2 separate regions of the Homo sapiens genome follow, and region 1 is linked to region 2. Evidence: fine-mapped expression QTL. A gene starts in region 2. The other region holds a variant in brackets. All regions are shown on one strand. Distances are between the middles of the regions. Region 1 overlaps EIF3J (eukaryotic translation initiation factor 3 subunit J). Region 2 holds the start of SPG11 (SPG11 vesicle trafficking associated, spatacsin).

Region 1 (12,752 bases), 120 kb after region 2:
TCTACTCTGAAAAGTACTCAACAGGTAACGATAACTTGGTTAAATGAAGCGAGGGCTTTGACTATTTCTCTAGCCATGTCTCTTACTCTGGAACACTCTGAATTTATCTATTTATAGGATCCTGCACTTTTATCTCACGCACTAACCACAGCTGCAGACACCGCACAAAGAAATGGAGGCCCTCTAAAGATAGGGCATGGTAAGGGCAAAGAAGGGTTGCAGAAGGAAATGACACTGAGCACAAGAAGGCACAGCAAAAGCTGCATGCCTCTCACCTGGAGCAACATCCTACTGTCTAAGTCTTAAGACAACAGGACAGCCCTACAGTCCATTTCAAAGCTACAGACCTCACATTTCATGCAAATTTCATCCAGCTGATAAAAATATTCTATGCAGTAGTGTACTTCATCTGAGTCTACTCCTTTTTGCCCTTCTTGCATTGCTATAAATGACTTATCTTAATAATCTTTTACTCAAAACAATTATTCAAAAATCTGAACATGTAATGAAATCTCAAATATACACAGAGATTAAAAACTGCTTTCTAATATCTACATTAGCCAGTATGTTTCTTTTAAGAAAAGGAGATGTTTTCTGAACTTTCTGGGTCTTCACCTGTAACAGTTTAATACTGTATTGCAATCATAATCCCGTCTTACCAAAAGTTTCCTTTGCTAATTCGAGGTCTGACTCTTCCTGTAATTTCTTTAGCCGCAGTTTATCTGCTAATTGTTCTTCTGGTGTTAGCACTTTAGGTTCTTCGGGTTCTTCTAACTAAAATGAGACAAAAGTTTTTAAAAAGCACAGGGATTATGATGCACTCAGTACCTTTCTGTATTGTACGAATTCTTAAATAAGCGTATATAATAACAAATAAAAGTGAACACTGGTAATTACTGTTTCAGGCATTCTTCTAAACACTTTAGTTTTTTTTTTTTTTTTTTTTTTTTTAGACAGAGCCTCACTCTGCCACCAAGGCTGGAGCACAGTGGCATGATCTTCGCTCATTGTAACCTCTGCCTCCTGGGTTCAAGTGATTCTCATACCTCAGCCTCCCGAGTAGCTGGGATTACAGGCGTGCACCACCACATCCAGCTAATTTTTGTAGTTTTAGCAGTGATGGGGTTTCACCATGTTGGCCAGGCCGGTCTTGAACTCCTGGCCTCAAGTGATCCGCCCATCTCAGCCTCCCAAAGTGTTGGGATTACAGGTGTGAGCCACTGCGCCCAGTCCACTTTAGGTATCCTTAACCCAATTTTAAAGATAAGCAATGGAGGCACAAAGAAACAACCTGCCCACAACTAAATAGAAGGTAACAGCTGGTAACGTGACAGATTTGTACCCAGGAAGACTGGGGTTACTTCTATAACCTTTTTTAAAAAAAGGAATTGAGACTGTGGACAAGGTAAAAATATTACTTTCATACACTGCTACTAAAACTATATTGGAAAACCCTTTCTAGGGCAACTTGGTAATATGGATCAAGTCTTAAATAATATTTTTACATGCTTTAATCAAGTATTCTACTTCCAGGTATTTACCTTAAGAAATAAGATGCACACAAATATGTAAGCCCAAGAATGTACATTAGAGTATTATTCATAATTTCAAATAAATTTACAGACAACCTAAATGTCCAACAGAATGGTTCAAAACATTTCCCCTTTTCATCATATTGTATAATTATAAAATTACCACTATAACAAATTTTAAAGATATAATAGTAGATGTCATTTGTTTCCCAAACCCACTTCTCTGACATGACAGTTGACAGCTTAGTGTATATCTATCTTCTCTTTATACTGGAATATAATTATTTTTTCTTTTTTTTTTTTGAGATGGAGTCTCGCTCTGTCGCCCGGGCTGGAGTGCAGTGGTGCGATCTCCGCTCACTGCAAGCTCCGCCTCCTGAGTTCACACCATTCTCCTGCCTCAGCCTCCCAGGTAGCTGGGACTACAGGCGCCCGCCACCACGCCCGTCTAATTTTTCTATTTTTTAGTAGAGACGGGGTTTCACCGTGTTAGCCAGGATGGTCTCGATCTCCTGACCTTGTGATCTGCCTGCCTCGGCCTCCCAAAGTGCCAGGATTACAGGCGTGAGCCACCACGCCTGGCCGTTTTCTTCTTTTTTTTTTTGTTTTGAGGCAGGATCTTGCTCTGTCACCTAGGCTGGAGTGTAGTGGCGCAGTCATGGCTCACTGCAGCCTCAACTTCCTGGGCTCAAGTGATTCTCCTACCTTAGCCTCCCAAGCAGCTGATACTACAGGCATGTACCACCACGCCCAGCTTATTTTTCTATTTTTTGTAGAGACGGGGTCTCCCTATGTTGTCCAGGCTGGTCTCAAATCCATGGACTCAAGCAATACTCCCACCTCAGCCTCCCAAAGCGTTGCAATTACAGGCATGAGCCACCACGCAGGCTGTTTTAATTTTTGAACCATGTAAATGTGTTCTGAAATAGAAAATAGGCCAGGCACAGTGGTTCACGCCTATAATCCTAGCACTCTGGGAGGCCAAGGCGGGTGGATCACCTGAGGTCAGGAGTTTGAGACCAACCTGGCCAACACGGTGAAATGCCATCTCTACTGATAATACAAAATTAGCTGGGCATGGTAGCACATGCCTGCAGTCCCAGCTACTCGAAGACTGAGGCAGGAGAATCACTTGAACCCGGGAGAAGGTTGCAGTGAGCCAAGATCACGCCATTGCACTCCCGCCTGGGCGACTAGAGTGAAACTCCATCTCTAAAAAAAAAAAAAGAAAAGAAAAGAAATAGAAAATAGGCTGGACGTGGTGGCTCATGCTTGTAATCCCAGCACTTTGGGAGGTCGAAGCAGGCAGATCACTTGAGGTCAGGAGTTTGAGACCAGCCCGGCCAACATGGCGAAACCCCATCTCTACTAAAAATACAAAGATTAGCCAGGCATGGTTGCGTGTGCCTGTAATTCCAACCTGGGATGCTGAGGCATGACAATTGCTTGAACCTGGGAAGTGGAGGCTGCAGTGAGCCAAAATCACACCACTGCACTCCAGCCTAGGTAACGGAGTGAGACTCTGTCTAAAAACAAAAACAAAAAAAAACAAGCATATATTTCTGATCCTGTGCCAAAAAATCAAAAACAAATACATTTATATAGCACATGGCACAGAAATGAACAATTTTTATATTATGTTCAATATATACACTGCAAATAAAAACTAATCCTGGCCAGACGCGGTGGCTCACACCTGTAATCCCAGGACTTTGGGAGGCCGAGGCGGGTGGATCACGAGGTCAGGAGATTGAGACCATCCTGGCCAACATGGTGAAACCCTATCTCTACTAAAATACAAAAAATTAGCTCGCCGTGGCTCCTGTAGTCCCAGCTACTCAGGAGGCTGAGGCAGGGGAATGGCTTGAATTCGGGAGGCAGAGGTTGCACTGAGCCGAGATTGTGCCACTGTACTCCAGCCTAGCGACAGAGCAAGACTCCGTCTCCAAAAAAAAAAAACAAAAAACAACAACAAAAACTAATACTGCTGACTAGAATGAACTACAGGCACTGGCAAAAATCACTGACTGTAGTCACTGCACTATCATGACTATTCCTGAATGTTTGTGAAAACTTAAAAGACACTCATATATAAAACTGGGTTCTGTTTTTGCAAAAACCACAAATCAATTTGTTTTGGATTTTACCTATCTTATGGTATCCATTTACAGTCTTCACAGAGCCCTTCAAATTCCTAGGTAATATTTGCAGCCTGTTAGAAACTATACCACTACCGATGTGAGAATTCTGTATTTTAGAAAACAGAATTTACCCTCTTTTTAATTTCTTCTTGCCTTTTCTTCTGTTGCCGTTCTTTCTCTTTTATCTTCTCTGCTATTTTTTTCTTTTCTGAAATTTTTACCTCTAAAAGTAAAAAAAAGTTTTATTCAGTTATACTGAGTATTTTCCAGTTTATGGATGAGACAGACATGATACTTGTATACTATTAAGAGACCAAACCTTTCCCAGCTTCAAACAGTGATTTTTCTCACAAATAATGGGAAACTTCTGGGACTCTTCCTTCTCCTCTCTAATGTGACCCCTAAGATCCAAATATCTCTTCATATTTCCCCACCGTCCTATAGGCAGGGCTTAGATCATTCAACTATAATTAATGCCAGAACCTCTACCCTTTCCTACTAACAAGCACTCATACAGAAATACAGCAAGTATCTAATCTGATTATATTTTGAGGCGATAGAGAAAAGTTGCAGGGAAAACAGAATAAAGTGGGAATGGAAGGACACTTGGTTTCTAAATACCAAAATGTTCCATTTTGTGAGCGTTCTGTCATTTGTCTTAATACAAGTCACAAATGCTCAGCAAGACATAAAAACAAAAATGGAGGCGCCCCAGTGGCTCACCTGGTTTTACTTCTGCTTCCTCTTTTTTTTCATCATCATCGTCATCCCAGTTATCCTAAAGAAAAGGACTTCCATTAATAATTCTTGCATGTTTGCTTTTCTATGTGAACTTTATTATCAACTTGACTAACTCCAGAGAAATGTTTGTTGGTATTTTTTTGTACTGCATTAAATTTATAAATTAATGTAGGGGGAATTGACATCTTATAATGCTGAGCTGCCCTAACCAAGAATAAGAACTGTCTTTCCATTTGATCAAGTACATTTTTGTACCTTTCAGAAGTGTTTTAAAGTGATTTCCCTATTAGAGGCTCTGCGCATTTCTCTTTAGATTTATTCCTAAGTATTTCATCTTGTATGTTGCTATTATAAATAGGGTGTTTTCCTATTATGTCCTCTAGGTGGCTATTATTTGTGTATAAAAACCTATCGGCAAGACCCAGTCTCTGCAAAAAAAAAAAAAATTAAAAAATTAACTGGGCAACGTGGCATGTGCCTGTAGTCTCAGCTACTTGAGAGGCTAAGGTGGGAAGATCACTTGAGCCCAGGAGGTTAAGGCTGCAGTGAGCTATGATAGTGCCACTGCACTCTATCCTAGGCAACTCACTATCATAAAAACCCTGTCTCAAAACAAATAAACAAAAATGACTATTGGCTTTTTTATATGTTAATATCCTGCTACCTTACTGAATTCATTTATCACTTAAGTTAGATTTATCGTTGCTTCTCTAGGGTTTTACAGGTATGCTACCTTATCTGCAAACAAAAGATAGCTTTACTTCTCTACCAATCCTTAGGCCCTCACAAGTGATTTACCTAATTGGGCCAGCTAAACCTCTAGTGCAATGTTGAACAGCAGCAGAAGTAATGGGCATCCTTGCTTTCTTGATGGAAATGCCTCTATTGTTTCCCCATGAATTGCTATGCATCCCAACAAATTTATGCAATAAAATTTACCAGACTTTTTTTTTTTTTTTGAGACGGAGTTTCTTGCCCAGGCTGGAGTGCAATGTCACGATCTCAGCTCACTGCAACCTCCACCTCCTAGGTTCAAGCGATTCTCCTGCCTCAGCCTCCCCAGTAACTAGGATTACAGGCATACACCACCATGCCTGGCTCATTTATTTTTAGTAGAAATGGTTTTTTTTTTTTTTTTTTTTTTTTTTGAGACGGAGTCTCGTTCTGTCGCCCAGGCTGGAATACAGGGACGATCTCAGCTCACTGCAACCTCTGCCTCCCAGGTTCAAGTGATTCTCCTGCCTCAGCCTCCCGAGTAGCTGGGATTACCAGCACATGCCACCATGCCTGGCTAATTTTGTATTTTTAGTATAGACAGGATTTCACCATGTTGGTCACACTGGTCTCGAACTCCTGATCTCATGATCCGCCCGCCTCGGCTTCCCGAAGTGCTGGAATTACAGGCGTGAGCCACCGTGCCTAGCCCCAGTCTTTTCTTTCATTGCCTCTGGATGGATTTCAAGTCAATTAGAAAGTCTTTTCTTGTTTTTTTGTTGTTTTGTTTTGTTTTGTTTTGTTTTTGAGTTGGAGTTTTGCTCTGGTTGCCCAAGCTGGAGTGCAATGGCATGATCTAGGCTCACTACAACCTCCACCTCCCGGGTTCAAGCAATTCTCCTGCCTCAGCCTCCCAAGCAGCTGGGATTAGACATGCACCACCATGCCTGGCTAACTTTGTATTTTTAGTAGAGATGGGGTTTGTCCATGTTGGTCAGGCTGATCTCGAACTCCCAACCTCAGGTGATCCGCCCACCTCAGCCTCCCGAAGTGCTGGGAGTACAGGCATGAGCCACTTCGCCCAGCCAGAAAGTCTTTTCTTACACCTAAGAATTCACCCACAATTTCTTCTAGAATGTATAGGGTTTCATTTTTTTTTTTATTTAGATCTCTGATTTGGAGTTTTTTTCTTGTGTTATGATATGCAACATGGATCTAATTTCATTTTTTTCCCAAATGGCTACCCAGTTGTCACAGCATCATTTATTAAAAACCCTTTAATAAATAATGGTTTTTTTCCCTGGGCTATGGTTTGAATGTGTCCTCCAAAGTTCATGTGATGAAATCTCCAATCCAACAGTGTTGAGAAGTAGGGTCTTTTAGAAATGATTAGAGGCAAAGCCCTCATGAATGAATTATTAATACCTTTATATTAGGAGTAGATATCTGATAAAAGGATGAGTTCTGACACCTCCTGCAATCCTTTGTGCTCTTTTGCCCTTCTGCCCCAGGATAATAGAGCAAGAAGGCCCTCGCCAGATGCCAGCACCTTGATACTGGACTTCTCAGCCTCCATAACCATAAGAAATAAATCTGTTGTTTATACAATACCCAGTCTATTGCATTCTATTGCAGCAAAAAACATTTTAAGATACCTTGTGACTTACCATATACTAAATTTTCATATGTACTTGGTCTATTTCTGGGCTTTTGATCCTATCCCACTAGTCTACTGTCTCTCCATATAACGGTACCATACTGGGTTTTTTTGGTCTTGTTTTTTGAGACGGAGTTTCACTCTTGTCGCCCAGGTTGGAGTGCAATGGCGCGATCTCAGCTTACTGCAACCTCTGCCTCCTGGGTTCAAGTGACTCTCCAGCCTCAGCCTCTGGAGTAGCTGGGATTACAGGTGTCCACCATCATGCCGGGCTAATTTTTGTATTTTTAGTAGAGACGGGGTTTCTCCATGTTGACCAGGCTGGTCTCGAACTCCTGACATCAGGTGATCCTCAGCCTCCCAAAGTGCTGGGATTGCAGGCGTGAGCCACCATGCCCAGCCGGTACTGTTTTAATTACAGAGGCTTTACTTTAATGTCAGCTAGAGCTAGTCCTTCCTTGTAGGTTTTCAGATTTTTTAGTGTTTTCTTGGCCTTTCTTGCATGTTTTGTTTTTCCATATGAACCCTCATATCAACTTATCTAACTTCATAAGAAAGCTTCTCCATTAGCAGTTAGGACAACCTAGCTGAAATCAATAGCCTCTCTGAAAGTGATTCAGTTATTAATAAATAAAAACTGAGAGAACTTTATAGTTCTTACTTCCCCCCAAATGTAAAAAGCATCCTATACTCTGGCCAATAGCTCATTTATTTCAAGTAGTATTCCATACAACATAAGCCTGGTTAATGAATTAAGTCTATATAATTCTAAAGCCCACTATTAAAAAGGAGTCAGGCCGGGTGCGTGGCTCATGCCTGTAATCCCAGCACTTTGGGAGGCTGAGGTGGGCGGATCACGAGGTCAGGAGTTTGAGACCAGCCTGGCCAACATAGTGAAACCCTGTCTCTACTAAAAATACAAAAAATTAGCTGGGCGTGGTGGCAGACACCTATAATCCCAACTACTTGGGGGCTGAGGCAGGAGAATCACTTGAACCCAGGAGTGGGAGGTTGCAGTGAGCCAAGATTGTGCCACTGCACTCCAGCCCAGGTGACAGTGCGGCGAGACTTCGTCTCAAAAAAAAAAAAAAAAAAAAAAAAGAATCAAGGCCGGCTTACGCCTGTAATCCCAACACTTTGGGAGGCCAAGGCAGGCAGATCACCTGAGGTCGGGAATGCAAGACCAGCCTGACCAACATGGAGAAACCCCGTCTCTACTAAAAATACAAAATTAGCTGGGTGTGGTGGCACATGCCTGTAATCCCAGCTACTCGGGAGGCTGAGGCAGGAAAATTGCTTGAACCCAGGAGACAGAGGCTGTGGTGAGCCGAGATCGCGCCATTGCACTCCAGCCTGGGCAACAAGAATGAAACTCCGTCTCACAAAAAAAAGTCAACAGCTAATCAAGCCTTCATGGATCCCACTCTCTAACTCAGGGCACTTTAATCCCAGCACTTTGGGAGGCCGAGGCAGGCAGATCACTTGAGACCAGGAGTTCCGAGACCAGCCTGGCCAACATGATGAAACCCCGTTTATACTAAAAAATACAAAAATTAGGTGGGCATGGTGGTGCACGCCCGTAATCCTAGCCACTCAGGATGCTGAGGAACAAGAATCATTTGAGCACAGGAGGCGAAGCTGCAGTGAGCCAGGATCGAGCCACTGCACTCCAGCCTAGGCAACAGAGACTCTGTCTCAAAAAAAAAAAAAAAAAAAAAAAAAAAAGATCTATACTCTGTTTTTTCTATGCCTAACTCAATCATTGAGCTAAATATAAACCAATTATCAAACACAATTTTCTAAAAGCTCCACAGAACTTAGAAGGCTCAAGTTTAATAGGGACAGACACAGCCCTATGATTAAAGATGGCTTTAATCATAGGTAGCCTGGCCATTGTCTCAGCAGCCACCAGGCACACTATGACATGCCATTTGAAGCTGAGTGGCAAGATGGCAAAAGCAGGGCAAGAGGCCCTGATGCTACTAAAGAAGCAAAGGCTGACTAGTATGACTAATATGCCACAATATGACACCAAGCTTCTGGTTTCATAACACGACAGATCACAAATTTGTATCAGTCTAGGAATATAAACTAACCAAGCCTTGGTTCTTAATAAAAATCTCTA[A/G]GTCCAGTAAAGAAATTAAAAATTCAACATCCTGATTAAGGCTGTCATACAGTCTGCAAGCATAATTAAAGGAACTTTGTATTAAAAAGTAAGTGTATTTTTATATTCATCTTACTTCAGCAATTTAACCCACAGCTCGCAGTTTTAACAGATTGAAAGCAAACCAGCTAGTCATTATTTGAGTAACTGTGATACTAGAGTTAGAAATTAGAGATCAAACGTTTGTATTTCGCCGTTAGTTTGCTAAGTGCTATACATCACAGTACAAAAGGAACCAAAGAGCTAAAAATAAAAGTGAATTACTAGGCATTTTTTGTTGTTTAAATCTTCACAGAACACAGGAAGGCTGGATCTGTGAGTGATAGGGGGCAGTGTTTCAGATAGGAGGACCATTTGCTTACTTCCAGAAGATGCATATTTAAAACCCTTCTGAGAAACAGGTGTAGTAACAAGGTTAATTCTCACAACAGTCCTGTAAGAAGGTAGTGTTATTCCCCCATTTTAAAGAAAAGGAAACCCAGGCCCAGACATAGCCAACCCACAATCTCAGTGAAAAACTAAGGGACCTGCTCTGAATGGACCAAAGTTCTTTAAAGTGTCATAGGTATAAAGTTACAGTTAGAAGAATAAGTTCTGGTGTTCTATTACACAGTACGGTGATTATAGCTAATAACAATGTTATATATTTCAAGATAGTTCCATAAGAAAATTTTGAATGTTAACACCACAAAGAAATGATAAATGTTTAAAGTGATGAAATGGTAATTACAATGTATACATGCATTGAAACATCACAATATACCCCATAAATATGTACATTATTTGCCAATTATAAAAACTAATTTTAAAAAAGTTTTAAATAACTAAACATTTGACTGACCTTTTTATTGAAAATAAAATGATTTACTTTTTTAAAAAGCATGTTTTAAACACTTGCTTACAAAGTTCACGGTTTAGTAGAGTTCAATTCACTGTAATAAAGCAGCTTACAACACATCTTTAGAGTAACATGCTGAGATACATCCTTTAAATGTATACATGTAAACAGCTTCATTTAAGGCTTTAAACACAATGTTAAGGAAGGTCTTTAAAAAGCATGTTTTAAACACTTGCTTACAAAATTCACAGTCTGGTAAACAATTTAATTCGCTGGAATAAAGCAATTCCAATGCAATTCCAATGCAAAATAATAAAAATAAAAATAGTATTATAGTAAATATGACTTCTTCCCTGAGTCCTGAAGTATAAAATAACTAACTGGGAACTAAGTCCCTCTCCTGGGAACTCTGGGAATCTCATAAAGAGAAGGATTATTACACATATTAAGATATGCCCAGCTAGAGGTATACTGGTTACCAAACTTCTCACCTTAAATTGCCTGTAGTGGTTCTCTACTGATCTTTTTTTTTTTTTTGAGATGGAGTCTCACTGTGTCGCCAGGCTGGAGTGCAGTGGCGCAATCTCAGCTCACTGCAACCTCCGCCTCCTAGGTTCAAGCAATTTTCCTGCCTCAGCCTCCTGAGTAGTTGGGACTACAGGTATGCACCACCATGCCTAGCTAATTTTTGTGTTTTTAGTAGAGACCGGGTTTCACCATGTTGGCCAGGATAATCTTGATCTCTTGACCTCGTGATCCACCCACCTCAGCCTCCCAAAGTGCTGGGATTACAGGCGTGCCTGGCCCCTCCCACCTTTTTTTTTTTTTTTTTTTTTAAATGGAGTTTTGCTCTTATTGCCCAGGCTGGAGTGCAATGGCACGATCTCAGCTCACCGCAACCTCTGCCTCCTGGGTTCAAGCGATTCTCCTGCCTCAGCCTCCCAAGTGGCTGGGATTACAGGCATGTGCTACCACGAACTGGCTAATTTTGTATTTTTAGTAGAGATGGGTTTCTCCATGTTGGTCAGGCTGGTCCTGAACTCCCGACCTCAGGTGATCCACCCACCTCAGCCTCCCAAAGTGTTGGGATTACAGGTGTGAGCCACCACGCCTGGCCAGTTTTCTACTAATTTAAGAAACTGGGCCAGATGAGTTGGCTCACGCCTGTAATCCCAACACTTTGGAAGGCCAAGGTGGGTGGAATACCTGAGTTCAGGAGTTCAAGACCAGCCTGGCCAACATGGCAAACCCCTGTTTCTACTAAAAATACAAAAAAAATTAGCAGGGCGTGGTGGTGTGCACCTGTGGTCCCAGCTACTCGGGAGGCTGATGCCCAAGAATCACTTTGAACCCGGGAGGCAGAGGTTGCAGTGAGCCGAGATCACGCCACTGCACTCCAGCCTGGGTGATAGAGAAGGCCTCCGTCTAAAAAAAAAAAAAAGAAAAGAAAAGAAAAGAAAAAAGAAAAAAACTGGTCTGCAAGCCTCTGGTAGTAAGAGGTCAAGAAGGAAGAAGTATGGCTGAAAATAAGGAGCTCCATCTCAATACCTCCAAGGTAAAGAAACAAACTCAACACAGGAGCATTTTTATTTAATGTTGATGCTCTTCAGTTACCCTTCCCAGAAAAACATAACCCCCACCCCACCCATATCACTGCTCCCTCAGTACATTCACACCAACTCTATGTCCACCTCTATCCCTGTCCCTAGTTTCTCCCATCAAAGCATAAACCTTACCCCAGACACACATCAATGCAGACATAATGAAGCTACCTAGACATTCCCTACTCCATCACAGAATGGATTTTAGTAGCAAAAGAAGTGATTCTGGCCAGGCGTGGTGACTCATGCCTGTAATCCCAGCACTTTGGGAGGCCAAGGCAGGCAGATCACGAGGTCAAGAGATCGAGACCATCCTGGCCAACATGGTGAAACCCCATCTCTACTAAAAATACAAAAATTAGCTGGGTGTGGTGGCGCACACCTGTAGTCCCAGCTACTTGGGAGGCTGAGGCAGGAGAATCGCTTGAACCCAGGAGGCGGAGGTTGCAGTAAGCCGAGACTGCGCCACTGCCCTCCAGCCTGGAGACAGCGAAACTCCATCTCAAAAAAAAAAAAAAAAAGTGGTTCCTATCAACATGTACCAAGAAGAGCCATGACATCTGCTCCTCAATTCATAAAAGGACCATCCAAACCTTGACTGTCACTCTCTCCCCAAAGTGCTTACAAGTCTGCCCTGAAGTTACTACCAAACTAGCACTAAGCCCCTAAAGAAAGGAGCATAGTAAGTGTCAGCAAAAAGAGACTGGTCACACTTCCAAACAGATGTAATTATAAAAGCAAAAGGCCAGGTAGCTTTCCCCAGGAAGTTAGAGTTTTTGTTTCCATAGTTATAAAATTAAGTGTCTGAAAAGTAGATTTAAGGTAGAATGTTCACCACGCTGCTTCAAAAAATATGCCCAATTTTTTGTAAACATTAGAAGTTTGTAAATTCCAGCAGCAAATTCAGATAAAATGTAAAAAGGCTTCCTAGAGAAACAGCTAAAATTAACACTTAAAATAGGGAGCAAGTCTACAACTCACTTCAAAGAGCCCTAAATGGTTATTTGGTTCAAGAGACTACCTATGAACATCCAATTAAATCCTTTACCCAATTATTTTTGGTAGCCAATTAATCTTTCAACTATAATATCCAATTTATCTTCAAAAGAATCACCCAGGCTGCTCTCCTAAAATGGCTAGCTTCTTAGAATAGGGCCTGTTTATAAACTACTTGCTTATCTATACTCTTGCCCTGCAGATACACACCCATCATTTAAGCTATTTCTATGAAAGAGATGGCTGCTTTTTAACTTTAAAACTTGCTTCCCTAATTGAACACAACTAAGTATCAGAAGCAAAGCAGAAAACTTTATATCTTGCTTTCTTTTTATTTCTAACAATGTGGCCAGTAGTTAGCTGGTTCT
Region 2 (11,361 bases):
TTCAGGTGGGAGAGAGAATCACTACAGGATGGGGGCCGTATTTCTAAAATTGACATCCCAAACTCATTTCTCTCTATCTTCCTACATTTCAGCCAACTAAGATTATTTCCAGTTCCCCAAACACACTTGGGTTTTGTCTCTACTCTTTGCTAAGAATTTTCCCTGTTCACCCAGGAAATATGGATTTTCCCACCTGTGTATGCTGAGAAATGTCTTGTTATATTCATCTACTTTGACTTTTTAGATCTAAAGCACAGGGATGTTATAAATAGTGGGATTCAGTTTGTTTAATTGAAAGAACGACAGCAGATATTTTTACTCATTTTCCCCTGCTTCCTTCTGCCTTTATTTATGGGGCAAGTCTTTATCCACAAGTTTTTGGGTTGTCTAGGCTGTTATCTTTCTTTTTCTTTTTTTTTTTTTGAGACAGAGTCTCCCTCTGTCATCCAGGCTGAAGTGCAGTGGCACCATCTCAGCTCACTGCCACCTCCACCTCCAGGGTTCAGGTGATTCTCCTGCCTCAGCCTCCCAAGTACCTGGGATCACAGGCATGCACCACCATACGCAGCTAATTTTTGTATTTTTAGTAGAGATGGGGTTTCACCATGTTGGATAGGCTGGTCTTGAACTTCTGACCTCAAGTGATCCACCCGCCTCGGCCTCCCAAGTGCTGAGATTACAGGCATGAGCAACCGCGCCCGGCTGGCTGTTTCACTTTCACCTCAACATCTGGGAGCCTCCCATCCAGTGCCCCATCCTTATTGCCTTCTCATTTACATTAGGTATTTTTCCTTTCTTTCCACCAAGCTTCAAAAGCCCTCCTTTTTCTGCGAGGGTCACTGAAAGTGAAATAGTTTTGTATTCTTGCCTTTTTGGCATTGCTTCTAAACAAAAGAGCCTTTTTCAAATCCTTGTTTGGCTTGTCAGTGGATTTTAGTTTAGGATTTCTCAACTTTAAGAAAATGTCAGAGCTGCTGAGCAAATCCACAGAAGTATAAAACTGGCCTAGAGGGCAACTGACAAACACTTCCCTATAGCTAGTTCTGTGCTTAAACCTCTGGATGGCCTTCATACCATCAGATAACTGATTTTTAGAAAGCACAGGTGAGATCACAAGATTAAATGGGGAAGTGGGGAGGACAGGTGGTATGCAGTGTGTGGGTACTAGAGCATGAGGAATGCAGGAAGGTTACAGACGCTGGAACAGGTTTGCTCACTGGCTCTCCACTTTGCTCTCTGACCTTTCATCAGACTTGGTGGTGGTATCTGGTCTTTAAGTATTTGGTATGTGAATTCCAAGATGGGTGATGTGGGGCCCAGGGTGCTTAAGACACTTTAGAATAACTGCAAGGAGGGCCTAAGGTGCCAGCATCATTTCTGGAATGATTGTTGTAGGAAAGAGTGTTAAGAGGCCGTGCTTGTCTGGGCACAATGGCTCGCCTGTAATCCCAGCACTTTGGGAGGCCAAGGAGGGCTGATTGCTTGAGTCCAGGAGTTCAAGACCAGCCTGAGCAACATGGTGAAATCCCACCTCTACAAAAAATACAAAAATTAGCTGGGCATGGTGGCACGTGCCTGTGGCCCCAGCTACTGAGGAGGCTGAAGTGGGAGGATCACTTGAGCCAGGGAGGTTGCAGTGAGCCAGAGATTGCGCCACTGCACTCCAGCTGGGTGACAGAGGGAGATGCTGTCTCAAACAACAAAACTTATAACACACACAAAAAAACTAAACTTAAGAGGCTGCACTTGAGAAACTTAATTCTAAATTCAAAAGATGAATATAAGGTGTTTTGTTTTTTTGTTTCCTATTCCGTGCATTCTCAGGAATATTACCAGAAGCTAGAGAAGAAGCAGGCAGACGAAGAGCTACTTGGACGAAGAAACCGGGTTGAGTCCCTCAAGCTGGTAACGCCTTACATTCCGAAGGCAGAGGCTTATGAGTCCGGTAGGGTCAGGGCTGACCTGCTGACTTGGGCTGGGCATCTGGGTGGACAGAGTGTGGGAGGGGGAAGGAAATGTGCCTCTCTTCTCATGCAGTGGTCCGAATCGAGGGTTCCCTGGGCCAGGTAGCTGTGTCGACATGCTTCAGCCCTCGCCGAGCTATTGATGCGGTACCCCATGGAACTCAAGAGCAGGTGGGAGCACTATCTTCCCAGACATTTTTCTCTCCCCTTTGGAAGAAGGGTCTAGAACATTCTTGTGTTTAAGACTGTGACCGAAGAAGGAGGAAGAAGTGTGATCAGACTTTGTTTCTAGCCTTTCCAGCTCAATCTCTAGCTAGTTGGGGGCCTGGGCTAGGGCTGTGGCAGTGGCAGTGTAGCTGATAGCTGGTGACTCCCTTCTCCTAGGATATAGAAGCTGCAAGCAGTCAGAGGCTTCGGGTATTATACCGGATTGAGAAGGTGAGATATCAGTTCCTTAGGGACGAGTTCCAAACCTACCTTTGAGAATGAGATATTACCCAAATTTACCTCTTTTTTCCACCCTCAAATTCCCAGATGTTCCTTCAGTTACTAGAAATAGAGGAAGGCTGGAAGTATAGGCCTCCACCGCCCTGCTTTTCTGAGCAGCAAAGCAACCAGGTTGAGAAGCTCTTCCAGACCTTAAAGACCCAGGAGCAGAACAACCTGGAGTGAGTGTGGGAGGGTTCCACCTCAGCCCAGGAAGGGAAGGAGCAGCAAAGACACTGGTCTTGCTTCTGCCTCTCCTTTGTGGCATGTAGCCCTCTCCTCTATGCAGAGCTCTGAAAATGTTCTCCTCTCTCCCTTGCAGAGAGGCAGCAGATGGCTTCCTGCAGGTGCTCTCTGTGAGGAAGGGGAAGGCCCTGGTGGCCCGGCTGCTCCCCTTCCTGCCCCAGGATCAGGCTGTTACCATTCTTTTGGCTATCACCCACCATCTGCCCCTCCTGGTCCGGAGGGATGTGGCTGATCAGGTACTGTGGCATTGAGTGGAGAAGAGGATGGTCTCCTGAATAGGTTAGGGGTCATTCCTCCCCTCCAGTCCCCACATGCCCCAGAGATGCCAGAGAAGGTGCTGGGCACAGCGAGGGATGCTGGCCTTGCCACCCTCAGGCAAGGAAGTTACAGAACTATTATAGGAACAGTGGATCATCTTCAGGTATGACGAACAAAAAGCAACAGGTGTATGGTTGCACAGGTGTCAGTGTGCTGAGGAGGTCTGAGTAAAAGATTAGGACGCCCTGATAAATGTTGAGCCCCTATCTACTTTTCTTAGAGAAGGATTCCTAGGACAAGTAGGTACCGAAGGTGTCAGTGTTGGGGATGGAGAGTCATAGTGGTGATAAGCCTGGTAAGTAACCTCACCAGGACGTGCCAAAGACAGGTCAGCGAGGGAAGGGACTGTGGAAGCAAGGTAAGGGGAGGTGAAGTTGTAGTGGAATTTGGGAGGTGCTTACTGATCTTCTTGCAGGCCCTACAAATGTTATTCAAACCTCTGGGCAAATGTATTAGTCACTTGACCCTCCACGAACTCCTCCAAGGACTTCAGGGATTAACGCTGTTGCCACCTGGCTCCTCAGAGCGGCCAGTCACCGTGGTGCTTCAGAATCAGGTAACATGTCTAGGAGGCTTTTTTCCATAGATGGCTTTCAGGTTGGTATCACTGATAAGGGGTAAGTTGGGGGACAGTCTCATCTCTACACAAATCTTATCCTCTGCAGTGCTTCTCTATTTCTAGTAAGCACATGATCACCTGGAAGCTTATTAAACCCAGCTCCTTGGTCCCACTCAGTCATTCAGTAGGTCTGGGGTGGGGCCCATGCACCTGCTCTGCTTTTCTAATAAGCTCCCTGATTGCTGCTGATGTGAGTCTCTAAAGCAGGTCTCCAAACTCTTGTATACCCCTTTCAGTAAAAAAATATTCTAAACCACACTACCCATGTGTTTATAAATCAAATACATGTAACACTAGTAATAATAGGTACATAATAAATATTTTCTTTTTTTATTTTTTAGATAGTCTCGCTCTGTCACCCAGGCTGGAGTACAGTGGCACGATCTTGGCTCACTGCAAGCTCTGCCTCCTGGGTTCACGCCATTCTCCTGCCTCAGCCTCCCAAGTAGCTGGGATTACAAGTGTTCGCCAACACACCCAGCTAATTTTTGTATTTTTAGTAGAGACATGGTTTCACCATGTTGGCCAGGCTGGTCTTGAACTCCTAACTTTAAGTGATTCGCCTGCCTCGGCCTCCCAAAGTGCTGGAATTACAGGCATGAGCCACTGCGCCCAGCCAATAGGTATATAATAAAAGACAGAAAATTTTAAAGAATGAGACTCTAGATGTGAAAATTTTGATGCTCTCTTCTAATATCCCAGTGGGTTATCTCATGTATGCCATACTGAAGGTCTTTGCTTAAAGAAGTGCCTCTTAAAGTGGGGTCCACAGACTACCTGCCTCAGATTCCTGGATGCATTCCCGATCTCCTACTCCTAGGAGTTAAGCCTAGAAGTATGCATTTAATCAGCTCTCCAAGAGTGTCTTTTGGAAAAGTTCAGAGCAGTGATTCCTATGGAAAGGGTTAGAGAGTTCTTTGGCTCACCAGTGTAAAACCTGACAGCACTTGTGGATATTTTGAGCTCTATCTCTAAATGTGAACCTGTCCTTTAGTTGGGAAGATAAGAGTCAGGAAAGCACCAAATGCCGAGTGTGAACTCATTTTGCTCTGGAATATATATATGTCCCTTGCAGTTTGGAATATCTTTGCTCTATGCCCTGCTGAGCCATGGGGAGCAACTGGTATCGCTGCATTCTTCCCTAGAGGAACCCAACAGTGACCATACAGCTTGGTAAGATCATAAAGGCCTTGTAAATACTATCTAGTACCCTCGGGATGTGCAGACTGAGCCAGGTGAAGTATTTCCTGAGGCATTTTCAAGTACTGAGGAAGAGGTTGGATAGAGAAAGTAGTAGCAGTGTTGTAGCTGTTCTGCTTTTTTTCTATAGTGCCCTAGAGTTTCGGTTTCTTCTAGGAGGCAGTATAACATAGTACCTAAGGGGACAAGCTTTAGATTTTAAAAAGACCTACGTTTGAATTCTGGCTGTATCACTTACTAGCAATATAACTTTAGGGCAAGTTCTTTCACTTCTCACTTCTCTTAGTTTGTTTCTTTATCTACAAACTAGGGATGATGGTATTAACCCCTCATAGTTCTTAAGATTAAATAGGAAGGGAAATGTGTAAAGCACTAAGCATTGCTTGGCACGTACCAAACATGCAAATGTTACCTCTGAATTGCTACCTGGGGGTGGGGGACAATGGTAGTAGTAACGGAAAGATAATAAGAAACCTTGGCCCTGAGTCTGTTTCTTAAGCAAATCTATTTGCTTATATTTATATTTATGCTCTCTAGGACAGACATGGTGGTTCTGATTGCCTGGGAGATAGCCCAAATGCCTACAGCCTCTCTGGCAGAACCCCTAGCTTTCCCCAGCAACCTACTTCCCCTGTTCTGTCACCACGTGGACAAACAATTGGTTCAGCAGCTGGAGGCCAGGATGGAGTAAGTAATGGCAGAAACAAGGTCAAAGCCCCTTGTTCAAGCCCAATCTATGTTCTGTTACTTGCTTCACTACTTCCTTCTTCTAAATTATGAGCATGAAGGATCATGTGTTTTTAGAAGTGGTTCTACACACTGACATTTACTGAGTAACCATTCTTGACTAAGTCTTCAGCCAACCTTTTATTCCAGGTGCTTTGGTCATTTATAGTGCTAACCTATTTGAGGGCAAGAATTAATTTAAGAACCTGAATTATTCATTCAAGAAATACTTGAGGGACAACTATTCTAGGATATAAGCATGAATAACATGGTCATCTCTGTCCTCAGAATTACTGCTAGAAAGAGTCAGATACTAATTAAATCATATAAATACTTGCAAAGTAGAATTGTGCTTGCAGTTAATATCTGTTCTCTTTATAGGTTTGCCTGGATTTACTGATCTGTTTGTTCTGGAATACGTGTATGTGGGAAGTTGAATCATCAGACACTAGCTACATAGACTATGTTTACAGGGATCCAGAGAGTCTGAAGACATTTCTTATGCCTTTATATATTGGAGAACCCTTCCCCATTTTCATATCCTTTCTTCAAAAATCTAAATGATGTGCCTAAAAATAAGACATGGCATAATAAGGTATAATTAAAGAGATAATAGAATGATGTGTTGGAACTTGCTTGTAAGTTAAAACCTGTAATGAAGGCTATCCTATGTGTGAGTGCTCCAGGAATGTCCTTTTTCTTTTTTTTTTTTTTTTTTTTTTTGAGACAGGGTCTTACTCTGTCACCCATGTGGGAGTGCAGTGCCACCATCATGGCTTACTGCAGCATTGACCTCCAGGCTCAAGTGATCCTCCCACCTCAGTCTTCTGAGTAGCTTGGATTATAGGCATGTGACACCACACCCAGCTAATATTAAAAAAAAATTTTTTTTGGCCAGGTGCAGTGGCTCATGCCTGTAATCCCAGCACTCTGGGAGGCCGAGGTGGGCAGATCACCTGAGGGTCGGGAGTTTGAGAACAGCCTGACCAACGTGAAGAAACCGCGTCTCTACTAAAAATACAAAATCAGCCAGGCATGGTGGCACACGCCTGTAATCCCAGCTACTCGGAGGCTGAGGCAGGGGAATCGCTTGAACCCAGGAGGCAGAGGTTAGAGGTTGCAGTGAGCCAAGACTGTGCCATTGCACTCCAGCCTGGACAACAAGAGCAAAACTCTCAAAAAAAATTTTTTTTGATTTTTTTTGTAGAGACAAGGGTCTCCCTATGTTGGCAAGGGTGGGCTCCAGTGATCCTCCCAACTTGGCCTCCCAAAGTGCTGGGATTTACAGGCATGAGAAGACTGTCCTGATTATAAGGGACAAGGCTTTGTTGTAGCTAACACAAGTGTAACCTTAGAAATTGCTTTAACGTTGCCATTTTTTACAGAAAGAACACAGCCCCAGCTAAGCTTAGAAGGTTGAATATATCTCCCTTGTGATAGAAAACGTTTGGTTTCAGCTGGGCACGGTGGCTCACGTCTGTAATCTTAGCACTTCCAGGCTGGGACAGGTAAATCACCGGAGGTCAGGAATTCGAAACCAGCCTGGCCAACATGGTGAAACCCCGTCTCTACTAAAATACAAAAATTTAGCTGGGTGTGGCGTGCGCCTGTAATCCCAGCTACTGGGAAGGCTGAGGCAGAATTGCTTGAGCCCAGGAGGCGGAGGTTGCAGTGAGCCGAGATCCCGCCACTGCACTCCAGCCTGAGTGACAAAGCGAGACTCCATCTCAAAAGAAAAAAAAAGTTTGCTTTTATTTTGACAAATAAGGTCATGCATTGATCAACAAATGCGGGAGTACCTTTCATGAAACATGCACTGTTTTAGGTACTAGCCAGGACAGTGGTGAGCAACAAAGTCCTTGCTCTTTTGAAGTTTACATTCTTATTGGACAGGAACTGGCAGAAAATATCAAGTAGTGATAAATACTATGATTAAAAACAAAACTAGGTGAGAGACTGCAGTAGAAGGGACCTTAGGTTGAATGGCTTGGGGAGGCCTGTCAATAGAGGTTACATTTATGCTGAAATGTTCTGAATGTGGAAGATGTGTTAAGAAGGTACAGTTGTCTTTTAGGAGACTTTACCAAAATACCTATTCAACCCCTCTTCTCACCTCAAACTCTTTGCTCCTCTCCTTCTCTTGATCTTGGATCATACTTCCCTGAGAAAACAGACAGGAGCTCTCTACCATCTCCACCCCTTACTTACCCCGTCTCTCTGACTGTTACAATGGATATTATTTGACTTCAAATTTCGGGTCAACACCCTTACTATGGATCCACACTGTAAGACGGTCCATGCTACCAAGGAAATGGCACCACCCCAGAGCCTGTAAGCGAACAGCACAATAAGAAAAGCGAAGAAAAGAGGCAGGAACTGGGTTCCAAGGGAGCTGGAGGCAGCTGGACCAAGAAGGCAAAGAGCAATGCCACAGAGCGAGAACGGCTGCAACGGCCTGCTACGCTAAGCTAGGCCTTCAAGCATGCCAGAGCAGTTAAGCAGAGTGGGACTGGCGTCAGGGCAGATGTGGCTTTGCTAGAGAGGCTGGTACTGCCCCCCACAGGAAACGAATGGAATCGACCGGAGACAGCCGAGAGGTCTCCGCGGGAGTCACGAGGCCGAGCGGGAGCCGCTACGTACACCGCGCATGCCCACGACGCAGTCAGGTTCCGGCGAAAGTGACCGGAAGTAACCGCCGGGCCAAGATGGCTGCAGAGGAAGGGGTCGCGAGTGCTGCTTCCGCCGGCGGTAGCTGGGGCACCGCGGCCATGGGGCGGGTTCTACCGATGCTGTTGGTGCCAGTCCCCGCCGAGGCGATGGGGCAGCTCGGCTCCCGGGCGCAGCTGCGCACACAGCCGGAGGCTCTGGGGAGCCTGACGGCTGCGGGCAGCCTCCAAGTGCTTTCTTTGACGCCTGGCAGCCGGGGCGGGGGTCGCTGCTGCCTGGAGGGCCCCTTCTGGCAGTAAGTGCTGAGGGAGAGTTGGGCCGTTGGGGGAGTCCAGAGCCTAGGCTCGGCTGACTGAGCCCCAAGGGCTCACGCCGAGGCCTCCCTGCAGCCATAGAGGTGGCGGGAGAAGGGTGCCAGCTGCAGGAAACGCCCCAGAGGCGAGCGTGGTTTCCTCACAGAACCTTTCCCCCGACCTGAAACGCTCGCCTCGTTGCATTCTGGCAGCCCAGCTCTCCTGTTCCGGGTGGGCGGAGACGGCACCCAGCTCCATTGCCACCTGCGGCGAACCCGGAACGGGTCTCAGCTGAGGCGCTGATTCTTTCATTATTCAACACAGGTTGATTAACTGTCACAGGGTCGAGTCCCATGCCCATTTCTTTCAGTTAAAGATGCCAGCTGAGGATCATCTCTAATTTGAATCATCCTGATACTTTTTTCATGTCCTTGAAGTGAATAGCGTTTTCTTTCACATGTAGTCCTCTTCTTCAAGGACAGAGTCCAGTTTGTCCCTTCATTTATTCAGCAAATATTGTGTGCTTGCTGTTACATAGGAGCAGTGCCTAAAAAGTTGAGTAAGACACTTCTTTCTTGCGAGGCGCGCATGTTTGGGGAAGACAAACATGATTACAATAATGCATTACTTTGTACTTCCGTAACTCTTGGTTCAGTACTTAAGAGTTTACATCATAAAGTTTGGGAACGCCCTCTTAGTGTTTTGAGTGGGCTGCTGCTTTTTTTTTTTTTTTTTTTTTTTTAAAGATAAGGTCGCTGTCGCCCAGGCTGGAGTGTAGTGGCTCAGTCACGGTTCACGGCAGCCAGCCTTGACCTCCCGGGCTCAGCCTCCCCAGCAGCTACGACTACAGGCGTGCACCACCAGGCCTGGCTAATTTTTCTAGTTTTTGTAGAGATGAGGTCTCACTGTGTTGCCTAGGCTAGTCTCAAGCTCCTGGGCTCAAGTGATCCCGCCTCTCCCTGCCAAAGTGTTGGGATTACAGGTGTGAGCCACTGAGCCTGACCTGTTCTTTTAATAATTATTAATAGTAAGTATTTTCACAACTCTTTCTTTAAGATGAGTAGCCAAAAGGTGTCTTATTAATCTTGGAATCTCCAGCTCCTCTAACAGCTCCTGACATTTAGAGATTCATTTGATACATCAGTGAATGCTTAACTCTTCTGGGTTTGTCTTCTCTACCCTTGATGTCTAGTTGCTCGAAAGAGGAATCTCTGCGTTTAGTTTATAAACTTATTATAAACTAAGTTATTTATAAACTAGTTTAGGGGAAATTAGTTTATTTAGCAGTATCAAGTACCTATGAATGTGGCTCTGTAAAGAGAGGAATGGGGCAAAGAAAAGCCGAAATCTTTAGGTGTTTGAGAACCCAGCAGGGAAGGTAAGACCGAGATGAAATAAAGGGGGCGTTCATATGCTAGTTCATGAAATTAGAGGGGAGGAGGACCAAGAAAGGACTTTTTAACTTTTTTAGTTGAATTGAATTTTAATTCAGTTAAAATACTTCATAGGTTAAAAATAAGGGCATGTTTATAGTATTTAGAGTTTACTTCCTACTTTTTCAAAGTACATAGGTCTTTTTAATATTGTTGAAATTACATCATATATCTTGTTTATTGCATTGAAAATTTCCTGTCTTTCCATGTGGCAATATTGTCCCTATGCTAATGATGTACTCTACCTTTTAAGTATATCTTAGTTTAACCTTTTGTATATTTGACATTTAGGTTATTTTCTACATTTATCAATATGAACAGTCAGAAAAATGTCTTTTTTTTACCTAATAAGGACATATTAATACTATAATAGTATAAAACTACTATAGTAGTATAAAATACATAATAGTACATAATACTATTATGTACTCTTATTAGTTTTATTACTAATTGAATTAAATCATGTATGTACCACAGTAGTTTTATATACTACTCTAGAAGTATAAAACACTACTTCTGTAGAAGCAAGTTTCTTAAAAGATGAAATTTTATCAGCATGGTATAGCCTCACCTCTTTCATTGTGTTATTTTCAAATCTGGGGCTTTTATTTGTAATGTGTAATTTAGTTTTAATATTTAATTTGAAGCTGAAACACCATCAGTCTTGCCAGTGTTGTTATTTTGACATTTCAGTTTAAGAATTCCGTAACTCTACCGTTTAGTAATGGTAGTCATTAGCTACATGTGGCTGTTAAAGTAAAAAATTTGGTTCCTCAGTTGCCCCACATTTCAAGTGTTCAGTAGCTGCATGTGGCTATTGACTACTGTATTGGGCAATGCTAATATAAAACATTTCCATCACGGAAGGTTCTATTAGGCAGAGTTTTTCAAGATTTGGAATCGTCAGTCTATAAATACAAATAATCACTTTCTTTTAAAAGTCAAAACATTTAAGTTATCAAAAGCCTATTTTATTGTGAATACCACCTCATATAAATAATATACATATTTTGTTGTTGATACCTACCCTTGATCATGACAGTTTGTTTAAACATACTAGTTGGGATTAAAGATGAAAGAATAAATGGAGCCATCATTTCTTGCTCTGAGCCCCACATTTTTGTTTTTTACCACCCACTCCTGTATTTTCGTGTTGGTGTAAAAGGGAAGCGGGAAGAGGAGGGAGGTCCTAGAGCAGTTTATGTTCTCTTAGATTGAAGTGTAGAATGACTATACCAGGTCAACTAAACTGTTCTCTACTTATTCAACCCTTCTACCCCCACCATTGTGGGTAAATATTATTGCGGATATAGAATATAATAAATCTAAACTTTTTTTCTTAGCTTTCTATGGGAGGATTCTCGTAACAGCAGCACACCAACTGAAAAGCCCAAACTGCTCGCTCTTGG

The links. PIP is the estimated chance that this variant, and not a neighbour inherited with it, causes the effect.
Region 1: its variant is fine-mapped to the expression of SPG11 in whole blood (TOPMed, PIP 0.93).

Annotation. Positions count from the first base shown.
Region 1 is chr15:44,542,575-44,555,326 of GRCh38, reverse strand. It overlaps EIF3J (eukaryotic translation initiation factor 3 subunit J), which reads right to left. Exons shown (of 8, transcript NM_003758.4): 3 at 4,397-4,451; 4 at 3,805-3,896; 5 at 660-774. Among named protein-coding and RNA genes, the nearest start is that of EIF3J, 12 kb to the right of the region's middle. The variant A/G (reference allele first, on the strand shown) is at 8,911.
Region 2 is chr15:44,660,551-44,671,911 of GRCh38, reverse strand. It overlaps SPG11 (SPG11 vesicle trafficking associated, spatacsin), which reads left to right and starts at 8,250. Exons shown (of 40, transcript NM_025137.4): 1 at 8,250-8,521; 2 at 11,296-11,361. The coding sequence starts at 8,265. PATL2 (PAT1 homolog 2) reads left to right here. Exons shown (of 18, transcript NM_001387263.1): 10 at 1,825-1,945; 11 at 2,038-2,135; 12 at 2,349-2,402; 13 at 2,499-2,632; 14 at 2,773-2,932; 15 at 3,430-3,570; 16 at 4,709-4,806; 17 at 5,371-5,520; 18 at 5,941-6,180. The coding sequence ends at 5,959. RefSeq lists enhancers at 4,824-4,923, 7,786-7,955, 7,996-8,475, 7,950-8,906, 9,016-9,155.